3 separate regions of the Homo sapiens genome follow, and all the other regions are reported to be linked to region 1. Evidence: microRNA targets listed by miRTarBase, many of them from high-throughput screens and not tested one by one. Region 1 holds a microRNA gene; each other region holds the end of a gene's coding sequence.

The links. Region 1 holds the annotated microRNA hsa-miR-6509-3p (UUCCACUGCCACUACCUAAUUU, at 2,251-2,272, shown strand). A microRNA usually pairs through its seed, bases 2 to 8, with sites in the 3' UTR of a target mRNA and lowers its output. Matches are read on the target gene's strand: a 7mer-m8 pairs with bases 2 to 8, a 7mer-A1 pairs with bases 2 to 7 and ends in A, and an 8mer does both.
Region 2: miRTarBase lists UGT2A2 as a target of hsa-miR-6509-3p. Seed matches in the 3' UTR shown: 7mer-A1 at 2,708-2,714.
Region 3: the mRNA of ZPR1 is a reported target of hsa-miR-6509-3p. Seed matches in the 3' UTR shown: 7mer-A1 at 3,031-3,037.

Annotation. Positions count from the first base shown.
Region 1 is chr7:135,205,035-135,209,277 of GRCh38, reverse strand. MIR6509 (microRNA 6509) reads left to right here and starts at 2,200; the gene lies at 2,200-2,284. It overlaps WDR91 (WD repeat domain 91), which reads left to right. Exons shown (of 15, transcript NM_014149.4): 3 at 280-487; 4 at 2,076-2,158; 5 at 3,220-3,350. RefSeq lists an enhancer at 1-419 and a silencer at 2,209-2,368.
Region 2 is chr4:69,585,999-69,590,241 of GRCh38, forward strand. UGT2A2 (UDP glucuronosyltransferase family 2 member A2) reads right to left here. Exons shown (of 6, transcript NM_001105677.2): 6 at 2,419-3,653. The coding sequence ends at 3,374. UGT2A1 (UDP glucuronosyltransferase family 2 member A1 complex locus) reads right to left here. Exons shown (of 7, transcript NM_001252275.3): 7 at 2,419-3,653. The coding sequence ends at 3,374. Among named protein-coding and RNA genes, the nearest start is that of UGT2A2, 52 kb to the right of the region's middle.
Region 3 is chr11:116,775,051-116,779,293 of GRCh38, reverse strand. It overlaps ZPR1 (ZPR1 zinc finger), which reads left to right. Exons shown (of 14, transcript NM_003904.5): 14 at 235-4,243. The coding sequence ends at 369. Among named protein-coding and RNA genes, the nearest start is that of BUD13-DT, 3.7 kb to the right of the region's middle. RefSeq lists an enhancer at 4,226-4,243.

The DNA.
Region 1 (4,243 bases):
GATAGCTGACCTGGAGGAATGAGTCACTTAGTTATTTGAACATCAGCTAGGGATTAATTTTTAGGATGGGATTTATCATTAGAACTTCAGCTTAAACCAGCTTTGAAATGACAAGTTCCTTGAGAAAAGAGTGATGATTTCCTTTATATTATGGAATTTTATTTTGCCACTTACCTGGCAGGCTGATAGTCAAAGGTTGTCTGCTGTGCAATGATGAAGAGTCTTACCTCTGGATTTCTGTCTCTCCTCCCTCCTTGCTACCTCCTTGTGTCTTGGCAGACAAACAGAAATGACAAGGCTCAGGAGTTCTTTGCAAAGCAGGCCACGGAACTCCAGAACCAGGCTGAGTGGAAGGATTGGTTTGTCCTGCCCTTCCTGCCATCCCCGGACACCAACCCCACCTTTGCTACCTACTTTTCTCGACAGTGGGCTGACACCTTCATTGTGTCCCTGCACAACTTCCTGAGCGTCCTGTTTCAGTGCATGCATATCCTTTCAGTTGCCTGGGGCTGAAGGCCCAGCCTGAGGCACCCAGACCTCAGGATCAGTAGCCCGCTGGTCTCCATACAGGCATTTCTTCTACAAAAATGCCCAGGGACCATTTTTATGGGTCACATGAGGGGGCTGGACAAATTGTGGTTGTTTTTGTCAGTAAGCCAGGGAATCATAAATCTTAGTTCTGACACTGTGCTGCTGAAGTATTAGCTGACGTGTGGGCAGTGACAGTGGCAGCAGTGGGGTGCTAGTACTGGCTTTGTCAGCAGGCACTGGGGTTGGAAGGCAGCTGCTGCTTGGAGAAACCGGGCAGCCTTGAGAGTACCCTCTCTGTGCATGAAACGTGTTCCCGGGGATATACCTTTGCTGGGATTAGGTACAGATGAGAAGACTTCTTGGGTTGGAACTTCTGTCTGTGTTAGTGTTTGGGTTATTGTCTCTAATAGTAACTTCAGTGTTCCTCAAGTTGCCAGAGAACACAGTAGCTTTAAGAATATATATGCGGGTATTGGAGAGGGGGAATGAATGAGAATGCAGGTAAATAATTTACAGCCTACCAAGTGTACAAGCCAGAGCTCCCAAGGCCATTGTTCATGCTCCCTAGGCTGGAAATTTAGAGGAGGAGAAGGGAGTCTGGCTTGAATGGGGCTGGCTGGTGAGGCACTGATAAACTTGGGTGTTTAGAGGCCCACCCATGGGCAGGCGTTTTGGCCTCTGGGAGGAACACTTTCTGGTGGAGGTGGGAAGGGCACCTTTCCTGCCTTCACCCTTTCTGTGCCCCAGATGAGTGTGAATTCCACCCTTGCCAGAACTGCCTTGTTTCTTCCCCGTTGTTCCCTCTCTTCATCCTGAGGGCTCTCCAGTTAACTTTGTGGGCCCTCCAGTGAAATCGAAACTGTCACTCAAGATCTTTTCAGTGCTTCTCAAACTAGCTTACACACATATGGGCTCTAGTCCCCTCTCCAGTTCTGAGGCCCTGTCTGCTCTGTGCTCCTCCTAACTGAAGCTGCCTGAGGCAGTGGAGAAGGACCAGTATCCCAAGCTATAGACTGTCGTTGTTCTTGGGGTGGCCACGCAATCTGCAGAAAGCTTTCTCTTCTCAGTCCAAACCTTTGCCAGGGAGAGGCTCAACCTGGGGAGGCGAAGCCAACTGACTGGTCTTTTCTGCCTCATTGGCTGTATTACTGCAGAGCCACTGGCCTCCAGGGCTGCTTTTAGCTGAATGTAGTGACCTCACTAAAGCTCAGACTGGCTGTGAAGTCCACTGGATGCTAGCTCTTTGCTTCTGGTATTTGAGAGAAAATGCTTAGGTTTGGATTTATGTCCCCTCTGTGGGCTGGCCAGGCAGATGGTCATGCGTCTGTGAATCTGTCCGAATGAAATGAGGCCAGACCTAGAGAAAGTCTTAGAGACAAGACTGTAGGGAGCGACTATTTCATTAAGCCCGCAAGAGCCCACAGCACCGCTCCTATACTCTGTTCTCTGTGTCCCTGTGTCTCATGTGTTTTACTGGTGTGTCAAGGGTTTGGGAAGGACGTTTAAACATTTCAGGGGCTGGCTTATTCTTTAACTTCGTGCACCAGTCCCTGTGATCCTGAACTTTGATGCGGAGTGTCAGAGGACTAACCAGGTTCAAGAAGAAAATGAAGTTCTGCGTCAGAAGGTTTGTTCTGAACAGGCTTGCTCCTGAGGAAGTACTTCTGCTTTTTGTGTGTGAAATTAGGTAGTGGCAGTGGAACACTATATTAATCAGGTTTCCACTGCCACTACCTAATTTCTCAGATGGAAATGAGTCACCAGAAAGTCAGTATTGGGGATTTGGAGAGTAACAGTCTCTGAAAACCAGAGGCGAGATTCATATTTTAAGTCAGATATGTAGCATGAACAATATAGTAACAGTAATTAACTTTTAAGGAGAAAAAGACTATATGCATCCATGCCACCTTATAACTAACCTGTTTTCATGTGTCTGTTTTGTCTTTCCACGTATAGCTATATATGTGTGTATATATATATACACATATATATGTAAACTATATGTATATATATAAACTATATATACACACACACACATATATATAGTTTATAACCCATATATAATTTAGTTGTTCCTACTCAGCTATATGCTTCTCTAGTTTGATAAAACAATAGAGCCAGGGGACCCACATTTGCCTGTACATGTTGCCTGAGGAACATTTCTCTTTCCTGAAATTAAGATCTCCTTAGGTGATATTGTTAGGAAAAGGAAGATTATAGGCTGTTTAGGTTATGGGGTTTAAGATTCTTGGGATTTGGGGTGTGTGTATATGTAATTTTCTTCAGGCAAAAGGTTAAAAACGCTGTAGTTCATTAACAGGTTTTTTTTTTTTTTCCATTCCAGAGTCAGGCTTTGAGAGTTCTAAAGCCTGATTTTGTAGATTCTAAAAAGCAAAACAGGTTGGGTGGAGCTATTTTTCTCAGTGAATCTAGGAGGAAGCAAGTCAAATGATTAAAAAGAAAATGGGTTTTGGATTTCTAATGGTTTTTGGTTTTCTCACCTCATTGTTGTCCAGTGACAGCAGTCACTTTTCCCAGTCTGCAGTGAGCAGAGTGAGATGGGCCCCTTGACGCTGAGGCGAGTGGCACTCAGACCAGTGGGCTTGGATGCGATGTGTCTAGAAATCTTCCTCCGCAGAGGGAAGGTTAGGTGAGATCATTGGCTAACTCAGTCCCACCCCTGTATAGCTTTTTGCATTGCAAGCTGAAATCCACCGACTGAAGAAAGAGGAGCAACAGCCAGAAGAGGAAGAGGCCTTGGTCCAACACAAATTGCCTCCTTATGTCTCCAACATGGACCGCCTGGGGGACTCGGAACTGTGAGTGTGTGTGACGGCCCTTTCCTTTTCTTTGCCCTCTGTGCTCTCAGCCCCACAGTTCCCTCTGATCTTGCCTTGCCTGCAGTCCTCTGTGCCTGCTGAAGGAGAATTGCGGAAGAGCCTCCTGGCACACACTGCTCTTGCTTGAGAGCTTTATTTTTATTTTTAGAGATGGAGTCTCGCTCTGTCGCCCAGGCTAGAGTGCCGTGGCACAATCTTGGCTCAAAGCAACTTCTGCCTCCTGGGTTCAAGAGACTCTCCTGCCTCAGCCTCCCAAGTAGCTGGGATTACAAGTGCATGCCACCATGCCTGGCTAATTTTTTTTGTATTTTTAGTAGAGATGGGATTTCATCGTATTGGCCAGGCTAGTCCCAACTCCTGACATCAAGTGATCCACCTGCCTTGGCCTCCCAAAGTGCTGGGATTACAGGCGTGAGCCACCGTGTCCAGCCTTGCTTCAGAGCTTTATGAGTAAGGTCCCCATGGCCTCAGAAGTCCTCTAGGAGTTCTGAGCCTCCGAGCCTGTGGCTCTGCCTAGAGGTGGGGAACTGCACAGCTCTGCCAGCTCTACATCCAGATATGTGTAGTCAGGATAAATAAAAACGCAACCACTGTGGTAAAGTCTTGGGAAGGTTTTGTGCATTGGAAGGAGCATCTCATGTATGGAAAGATTGGTAACCACAGGTTGGATGCATTCCTCAGTAGAAGCATGCACCTCTCTGACGGTTTAAAGAGGAAGGCAGATTAGAGAGAGGTATTTGACCTTCAGAAACAGCCAGTTAAAGCAGAAGCCCCAGCTGGTGATAATAATAGTAGTGGTTGAAGAAACAGAGGTACACACAGGTGAGGAAGACAGTGATTGGTGAGTCACGATGCAAACCCAGGCAGCCGGA
Region 2 (4,243 bases), not on the chromosome of region 1:
TCTGGATGACAAATGGATCAAGAAAAGGTAGATGGCCTCATGCTTACAAGTGTGTGTTACTGTGTCTTTTAAAATTACAAGTGTTTTACTCCCCAGTAAGAGTTGAACTTGTGTGTTCTAGACACCTAAGTCATATAAGAGGTTTGTGAAGTGTCAAGTACAGTGAGAAATGGAGACTTCTTGGTCTGCAGTCCCCTTGACACAGAACTGGAGATAAAGTAATTATACAGCTGAATTACCATTTCTTAGATGTCACGGTTCAAGATACTTTTGTGTGTAAAAAATTTGTACACATACAATTCACATATTTATCAATTTAAAGTGTACAATTCAATGGCTGGGTGCAATGGCTCATGTCTGTAATCCCAGTACTTTGTGAAACCCAGGAAGGTGGGTCACTTAAACCCAGAGGTTTGATATCAACATGGGCAACACAGTGAATCCTTGTCTCTACAAAAAAAAAACAAAAACAAAACGAACAATTAGCTGGCTGTGGTAGTGTGCACATGCAGTCCCAGCTACTTGGGAAGCTGAGGTGGGAGGATGGCATGAGTCCAGGAGGTTGAGGCTGCAAAGGGTGGAGATTGCAATCCTGTCTTCCAAAAAAAAAGTTTTTAATATACAATTCAGTGGTTCATCGTATATTCATAGAATTTTTCAACAACTGCAACAACAAGATTTAGAGTATTTTATCACCCACCAAAAGAAACACTGTACCCTTAGCCATTCCTTATCCTGCATTTTAGGCAAACACTAACTTATTTTTTATCTCTATCAATTTTCCTATTAAGAGCATTTCATATGAAGGGACATATTGTTATATGAAGGATCTTTGTTGTTTGGCATCTATACTTAGTATAATGTTTTAAAAAGTCTCATTAATGGTATAGCATGCATCAAGACTTTATTATTTTTATTGCCAAATAATATTCTAAAACATATTGTTTATTCATTTATCAGTGATGAACTGTAGTTTTCTCTCCAGTTTTGGTTAAGATGTTATCAACATGCATGTATTAATTTTGTATAGACCTATTGCCATTTGTGTCTGGTATATTACTAGAGGTAGAATTGCTGGGTCATATTGTAACTCTGTTTAAACTTTAATAAACTGGCAGATTGTTTCAAAGTGCCTGAATAATTTTTGATACACACAAGCAAAGTATGAAGATTCCAAATTCTCCATATCCTTGCCAACACTTTTAATTACTTATCTTTTTGATAATAGCCATGTTAGTGAGGGTGAAGTGGTATCTCATTGTGGTTTTTACTTAAATTTTCCTGTAATAATGTTGAACTTAATGATGCAGAGCATTTTTTCATTTGTTCTTATTGGACATTACATTTGCTCATTTGTCCTCATTGGACATTTACATATTCCTTAGAGAAATGCCTGTTCAGATCTTATGCACATTTTTGGATTGGGTCATTTTTTTTTTATCATTGAGCTGTAAGCTTTCTTTATAAATTTCTTACACAAGTCATTTACCATGTATGTAATTTGCAACTATATCCTCCAAAGTCTGGTTTCTCTTCAGACTTTAGTGCTGGTGTTTGGATGTACAAAAATTTTGATTTCAGTGAAGTCCAATTTATCAATTTTAATTTGATTGCTTCTGCTTTTGGTGTCATATCTAAAAACCTTGCAAAATTCAGGGTTAGAAAGAAAGCTATACCCATATTCTTCCTGCTGAGAGTTTTATAGTTCTTGATCTTACATTTAGTTTTTTTTTAATCTATTTTGAGTCCATTTTTATATATGACTTGAGGTAAGGGGTTCAATTTTATTCTTTTGAATACTGATAATCAGTTTGTCCACTGGTATTTGTTAAAGATATTGTTTTTTCTCCATTGTATAGTTTTGCATTCTTGTCAAATATCAATTGACTCTATGTTTGGCTATATTTCTAGATTTTACAAACTATTAAAATTGAGTATATGCCTAGCTATATGCCTATAGCTAATGCATGCTAAGCTTAATACCTAGGTGATGGGCAGATAGGTGCAGCAAACCACCATGGCACACGTTTACTATGTAACAAACCTGCACATGTATCCTGGAACTTAAAATAACATAAAATTGAAAAAAGAAACAGTGAAAGAAAGAAGAATTTCAAAAATATCACTAAGGCAACGAATGTAATTTATCTTCTCAATTTCAAATATTGAAATTAACACTTTAGCTAGAAATGTCATTAAATTTATAAAGGGTAAAGAAAGCAAAATCTTTAATATATTTATTAAATTAATGCAAGGCTGAATCAAGTAAAAGTATTTGCCTTCAACTATGCTTTCCGTTGATAAACATTTATTATGCCATATCCTTGGTGAAGCTCTTAGTCTTTTATATACATAGCATAACAATTAATTGATAAATTAAAATTTGTGGAAGATAAAGACAAAAATAATGCAATGATATCAAATTCCAAGTAAGCATTTTTTATTTTTTGGCATAAAATTAAACTTTTGATTACAAATAGTGATTATATATTATGAACATTAGTGATTTTTAAGCATAATTAATTGATGTTTTATGTAATTATTTGTACAGTTGACTAAAAATTTTATAAAAATGATAATTATTTTCTAGATTTCTAATTGTTATATCCTCTAAATATGATCTGTTCACCTTCAACATATAACATAGAACTTTCTCCTTGAAATAAAAGAGTCGATTGATTGATTTATTAAAGACAGTACCCAAATCTTCCACTACAGGTTATATAAGAATATATGTTGAAGAAAGGCAGGCAAGTTATGCCGTGATTTTCTAGATATGCTTAATGAAAATTTTGTAGACATTTAATAGGGACGCACGTCACACTTAAAATTCATTCTCTAACTCCTGAAACATTGAGCAAGCAGAAGAGTTTGTTTTTATTAAAAAAGGAAATCATTACCTTTCTCATAACACACTACTCTCCTACGGTGGCTCCCTGATTTGTTTGGTATATGGAAATTTGTGAATTTGACTCTTCCTTACACCTATCAAATTCCATCTACACTGTATGCATTACCAGGATTCAGCATATTGTTAATCATTAATTAAGGTTAACGATAAAATAATTTGATACTATGAATAGAACATATTTAAAATTAGGTAGTATCCTTGTGTCAGAAAAGTGACAGGAAGAGGGTATAGTCAGCAGGGAGAGACAAAGGAAAAATAGAAGACTATAACTCACAAGTTAATAATAATCATGCCAAAATCTAGGCTTTATCAGTAGGCTTATCGCAGGTAGAGAAATAGAAAATTTGGAAACAGGATGGGAGACGTGTTTTTGTTAAACTCCTTTTGTCTGGAATTAATAGGACTACACTACTCAGGATTTTGCCAAACTTAAAAATATATATATTTCCTCTTTTTCTTGACCTATTCTCTTTTTTTCTTCTTTCCTATCTTACCAAATTTTTGACAGGAAAACAAACAACATTGTATGACCAAAAATATAGCCGTTGTCACACAGACCAGCAAGAACCCAATTACATCCAAAGAGTGGTACTGGAACCAGGTGAGGTCATGGGCTGCAACCCGAAGGTGCTTGGCTCCTTTGTGGCGCATGACAAACTCGATCCAGAAGACTGCTCGATCCAGGGGCTTTACAGGTTGATCATGGTGAATTCTTGATAACCTCATAGCATTCTCTTTATAACTAGAAGACAAATAAATAGGCAGAAATTAGACAATTTTTGTTTTTATTTTCATTGAAGATAAATATGTGATACACTTTTGCTCTACAAGTTTAAGGCCATAGTTACGTGGAGAAAATATAATTCTTGCATGAACTTTGTTAGTTGTATAGGATTTTAAGAGTTACAAAAAGGAAGATATGGATGAAATATATGCTTAACACAGTATGATCAAATGTAGACATAAAAAAGTAGAGTAAGCCAGTTGTAAATATAGATGTTTAGCATAATTTTTCCAAAAATAATTTTGATACTGTGTGAGCTATACTGTAGGATGGTTCCAATACCAAGATGGTACATAACCTAATACTGTGGGATAAAAATCATTTAAGACATACATAAACATATCCTCTAGTGTCTGGCTAGTTCATATGACAGACAAAGGAAATTGGCAGTCAGCATTAGTGAGTCATTTTACAGTTCTAAGATGTAGGCATTGTGATAATTACTCTGTGGCACACATCTGTATGTTTGTGACGAAAAGGACAGTGTCTGTATCTGTAACATGAAGACTGAACAAAAATACTCTGGTGATTTAAGAAGTGGCATATCC
Region 3 (4,243 bases), not on the chromosome of region 1:
AGATATAACAAAATAGGTGGATTGTTCCCTGATTCTGGGGCTGGGGTCTTCTACCCCTGGCCCATGTGGGCTCTGTTGCTACCCACTAGTTCAGTCTAGCCATGGGAAATTGGAGGCCAATAAAAAGAAAAAAACCCAAAACTCATTCTGTTCTTGGGAAGGTGGGAATTGGAAGCTGCCTGCAGAGAGGGGGAGTGGCACAGCGGCACTGATTGTCTCTCCTTGACCTTGCAGAATGTGTATGCGCCTGAAGATGATCCTGAGATGAAGGTGGAGCGTTACAAGCGCACCTTTGACCAAAATGAGGAGCTAGGGCTCAATGACATGAAGACAGAGGGCTATGAGGCAGGCCTGGCTCCGCAACGGTAGCAGTGGGTGGCTCAAGGGCCAGCCTCCAGCGCTGCTCTTTCTGTAGGTTATTTATTAGTATTGGATGAAGGCGAAGGCTGGGAGTGTCTTTCCCACCAGCCCTTGCCCATGGTGGGGAGGACATCTGGTCTGAGTCAGAGATCTGTGCACACTTTCTAAACAGCTTGTGATGCAAGTGTGAGCCTATTGTGTTACTTGACCTTATTTTGGAAGTTTTGAATTGGCCTAGGAGGAAACCCAGAAATGAACCAGGGGTATGTCATCACTTTTTTCATATCAAGTCCTCACCCTCCTTCCACATAATGCTCTATCCTCTAAGGTTGGAACTCTGAAGTTGGAGAAGGTGGAATAAAGTTACACCTGGAGTTTGTTGTTGGTTTTGAGTATATAAAATACTGACTTTGAACAGGAAAGGAGTCTCCTGAGGGGAGACCGAGTCCAGCACAAGTGAAGGAGTTACCATTGAAATGATGACTTTCAAACAGCACTGGCCTCTGTATTGACCCTATCCTTGTTTGATATCATGCTGTTAGAATTCAGCCTCCTAAAGAAAATTTTCCCGTGTATCTACTGTAATTTGGGGATTGCAGCTGGCATTTAATTCATTCCTTCAGCAGATGCTTGCTTATCTACTTTATGCCAAGCACACCACAGAACAGAGGACAAAATAAATCTCTTTCATGGAACTTGAAGTCTAGTGGGGAAAAATGACAATAAACAGATCAGGAAAACAGTACATCAGATGGTGATTAGTGTCATGGAGGAATGTAAAGCAGGGAATGGGGCTGGGTTGTGCAAGGAAATGGGGAGTAGGGAAGATCTTCTGAACAAGAAGGTGATAATTTGACATTTGGGCAAAGCTGAGGAGGAGGTCAGGGAGTGAGCTGTGTGGGTATCTGGGGGAAGAGATTTCCTGGCAGAGGGAACTGCAAATGCTAGAGCTGTGAGGTTAGAGCCAGTGGGGGTACCTGATCAGTTAGCCCTACTCTCAGTTAGAAATGTTGAAACACATTCATCCAGAGAGAAAGGAGGCTCTCTGCAGTTCTTCTGAAAGTTAAGGACCAGTGAACACTCTGCTGCTTGGGCCCTGGACTTCCCAGCCAGTGTTCTTTGCACTGTAGTCTCCTGCCTCTCATAAACAAAAGGTGACTCCTGTGGTGCAGACTGCAGGGTATTTGTTCAATAAAGACCAGTTCATTGATTAAGATGTTATCACAAACCTTATTGCTTTGTGTTGCAAACTTTTTTTTTTTTTTTTTTTGGTAGAGACAGAGTCTCGCGCTGTTGCCCAGGCTGGAGTGCAGTGGTGTGATCTTGGCTTATTGCAACCTTTGCCTCCCGGGTTTAAGCAATTCTGCCTCAGCCTCCCGAGTAGCGGGGACTACAGGCGCACGCCGCCACACCCAGCTAATTTCTTTTGTATTTTAGTAGAGACGGGGTTTCACCGTGTTGCCCAGGCTGGTCTCGAACTCCTGAGCTCAGGCAATCCGCCAGCCTTGGCCTCCCAAAGTGCTAGGATTACAGGCGTGAGCTACCGCGTCCGGCTGTGTTGCAAACTTAACTCTGAAGAATGAGTTAGAGATGATTTAGCAATCAGACATCTACTCTCGTTGCTCTGTTAAACTACTCTCAAAGGTCACAAGTGATTTTCCACTTGGAAAGTGTTATCTATTTCTGTCACATTTGATAGTGGACCATCTCTTCTTAACCCTTCTTTTGGCTCTCGAGATACTGTACCCTTGGTTTTCCCTTCACTTTGAATATTTCTTATTTGGACACTTTGCCTCCTCCCCTCTTACTAAATTTGTTTCTGAGAGTTCTGCTTTCAGACATCTCTCCATATCAGATTCTTTGGCATCTTACTATCATGTGGGACTAACTTCCATACCTGTATCTCTAATTTCTGTAAGTGAGGGCGAGAGTAAGGTGTTTGGAGACTCAGGTTAGCAAATGACTCATTCAAACTATAAAGCTTCAGTACTTTGGGCAAACTTCTCACAGGCAACTATTCTACCCTAAGAGATTATCTCTAGGTATGTTTCCAGCTGACTTGGGAATCTAAGTTTACCAGACAACCCTCTGATCTATCATTTGGTCTCTTAAGTAGACTTCCCCATAGTGTAGGTGTGCTCTGTTAAGATAAACTGCAGTATCAGGTTCATTTTCCATTGTGAAGGAAAAAAAATGGCACTCTGGCTTATTACTGAATCTCTTGTGAGTTTGGTTGGTGTGAGGCAATCTCCCAGAATCCACCCAGTTCCTAGGAAATGATGACCTGAGTTTCTGAACTTGAAGACTGAGGACCAGGTGCCAGACTGGGATAACCCAGCTAAGGTACTTCCTGCCCTTTGATGACAAGGCATTCTTCAGTTTCATACCCTTCTCTTGAATTATCTTTCAGCTCCTTTCTCATTTCATAAAGTGTGTCAGGATGGGAGCTTACATATAGTTAACTGAGTCTTGCTCCACAGCACCCAGCATATGACACATGGTTAATAAAATCTGTTAAAATCCTCCATCATAGATTAAACCCTATTAGGACACTAGGGATAACATCTATAGGTAAAAAGATAGGGAAAGGGTCTCGCTTTAAGGCCAGGGTAGGTGAGTCAAAGTGCCAGGAACATGTGGATTCAGTTTCACAGCCATGAGTAACATTTAAGTGGAAAAGGTTTGTGATTGTGTTAAAAAAGGAAAGTGGTTCATGCATGAGGGCACGCCTCCTACTTTCATGGGTCAAGTATGTGAAATGCAGCCATGTTCGGTCATTAGACGTGTGGACGAACATACAGGTAGGTACTGAATGTACATCTGTGTCATGATGAGTGGAGGAGGGGAGGTGAGTGTTGGGAGCAAGTATGAAGGGCAGTTGACTTGGCCAACTGAAAACTTTAATGATGGCAACACTTTCATTCTAACATCAGTATATTTCCTTCTTTGTACACCTGTGGTATGTGCCTGATGCACACTGCAGAAAATGGTGTCTCTGCTTACATTTAGGGCAGTGGTGGCTAAGACTACTTGGCTTTATTCCTATTAAAAAATGTTTTTTACACACTTCTTTTTAAGGCAAATGGCAGTGTTTCCAACTGTGGAGAGAAAAAGCTGCTTATTTTGTGCGTTCACCTCAGTTTAGTATTGGCACTTCCAATGCTTGTTTTCCTAGTCTGTAAAATGGGGATAATTAGGATAAACAAAATTATCCCCATTTTACAGGTGACAAAACAGCCTCAGAGAGGTTACTTCCAGAAGGAAGCAGAGCTTTTTTTTTTTTTTTTTTTTTTTTTTTTTTTTTTTGAGACGGAGTCTCACTCTGTTGCCCAGACTGGAGTGCAGTGGCGTGATCTTGGCTCACCACAACCTCTGCCTCCCAGGTTCAAGCGATTCTCTTGCCTCAGCCTTCTGAGTAGCTGGGACTACAGGTGCACGCCACCATGCCTGGCTAATTTTTTTTTTTTTTTTTTTTTTGGAGACAGTCTTGCTCTGTCACCCAGGATGGAGTGCAGTGGTGCGATCTTGGCTCACTGCAGCCTTGCCTCCTGGGTTCAAGCAATTCTCCTGCCTCAGCCTCCTGAGTAGCTGGGATTACAGACGCCCACCACTGCACCCAGCTAATTTTTGTATTTTTAGTAGAGATGGGGTTTCACCATGTTGGTCAGGCTGGTCTCAAACCCCTGACCTCGTGATCCACCTGCCTTGGCCTCCCAAAGTGCAGGGATTACAGGCGTGAGCCACCGTGCCTGGCCAGAAGTAGAGCTTCTAAGAGGCAGGTGTCAAACCCATGCCAGTCAGACTCTGAAACCTGAGGTCTGAATATTTTAAGCTCAGCTCCACAATTACTGTATTTGTTCTATTAGATACAACTGCAGAGAGA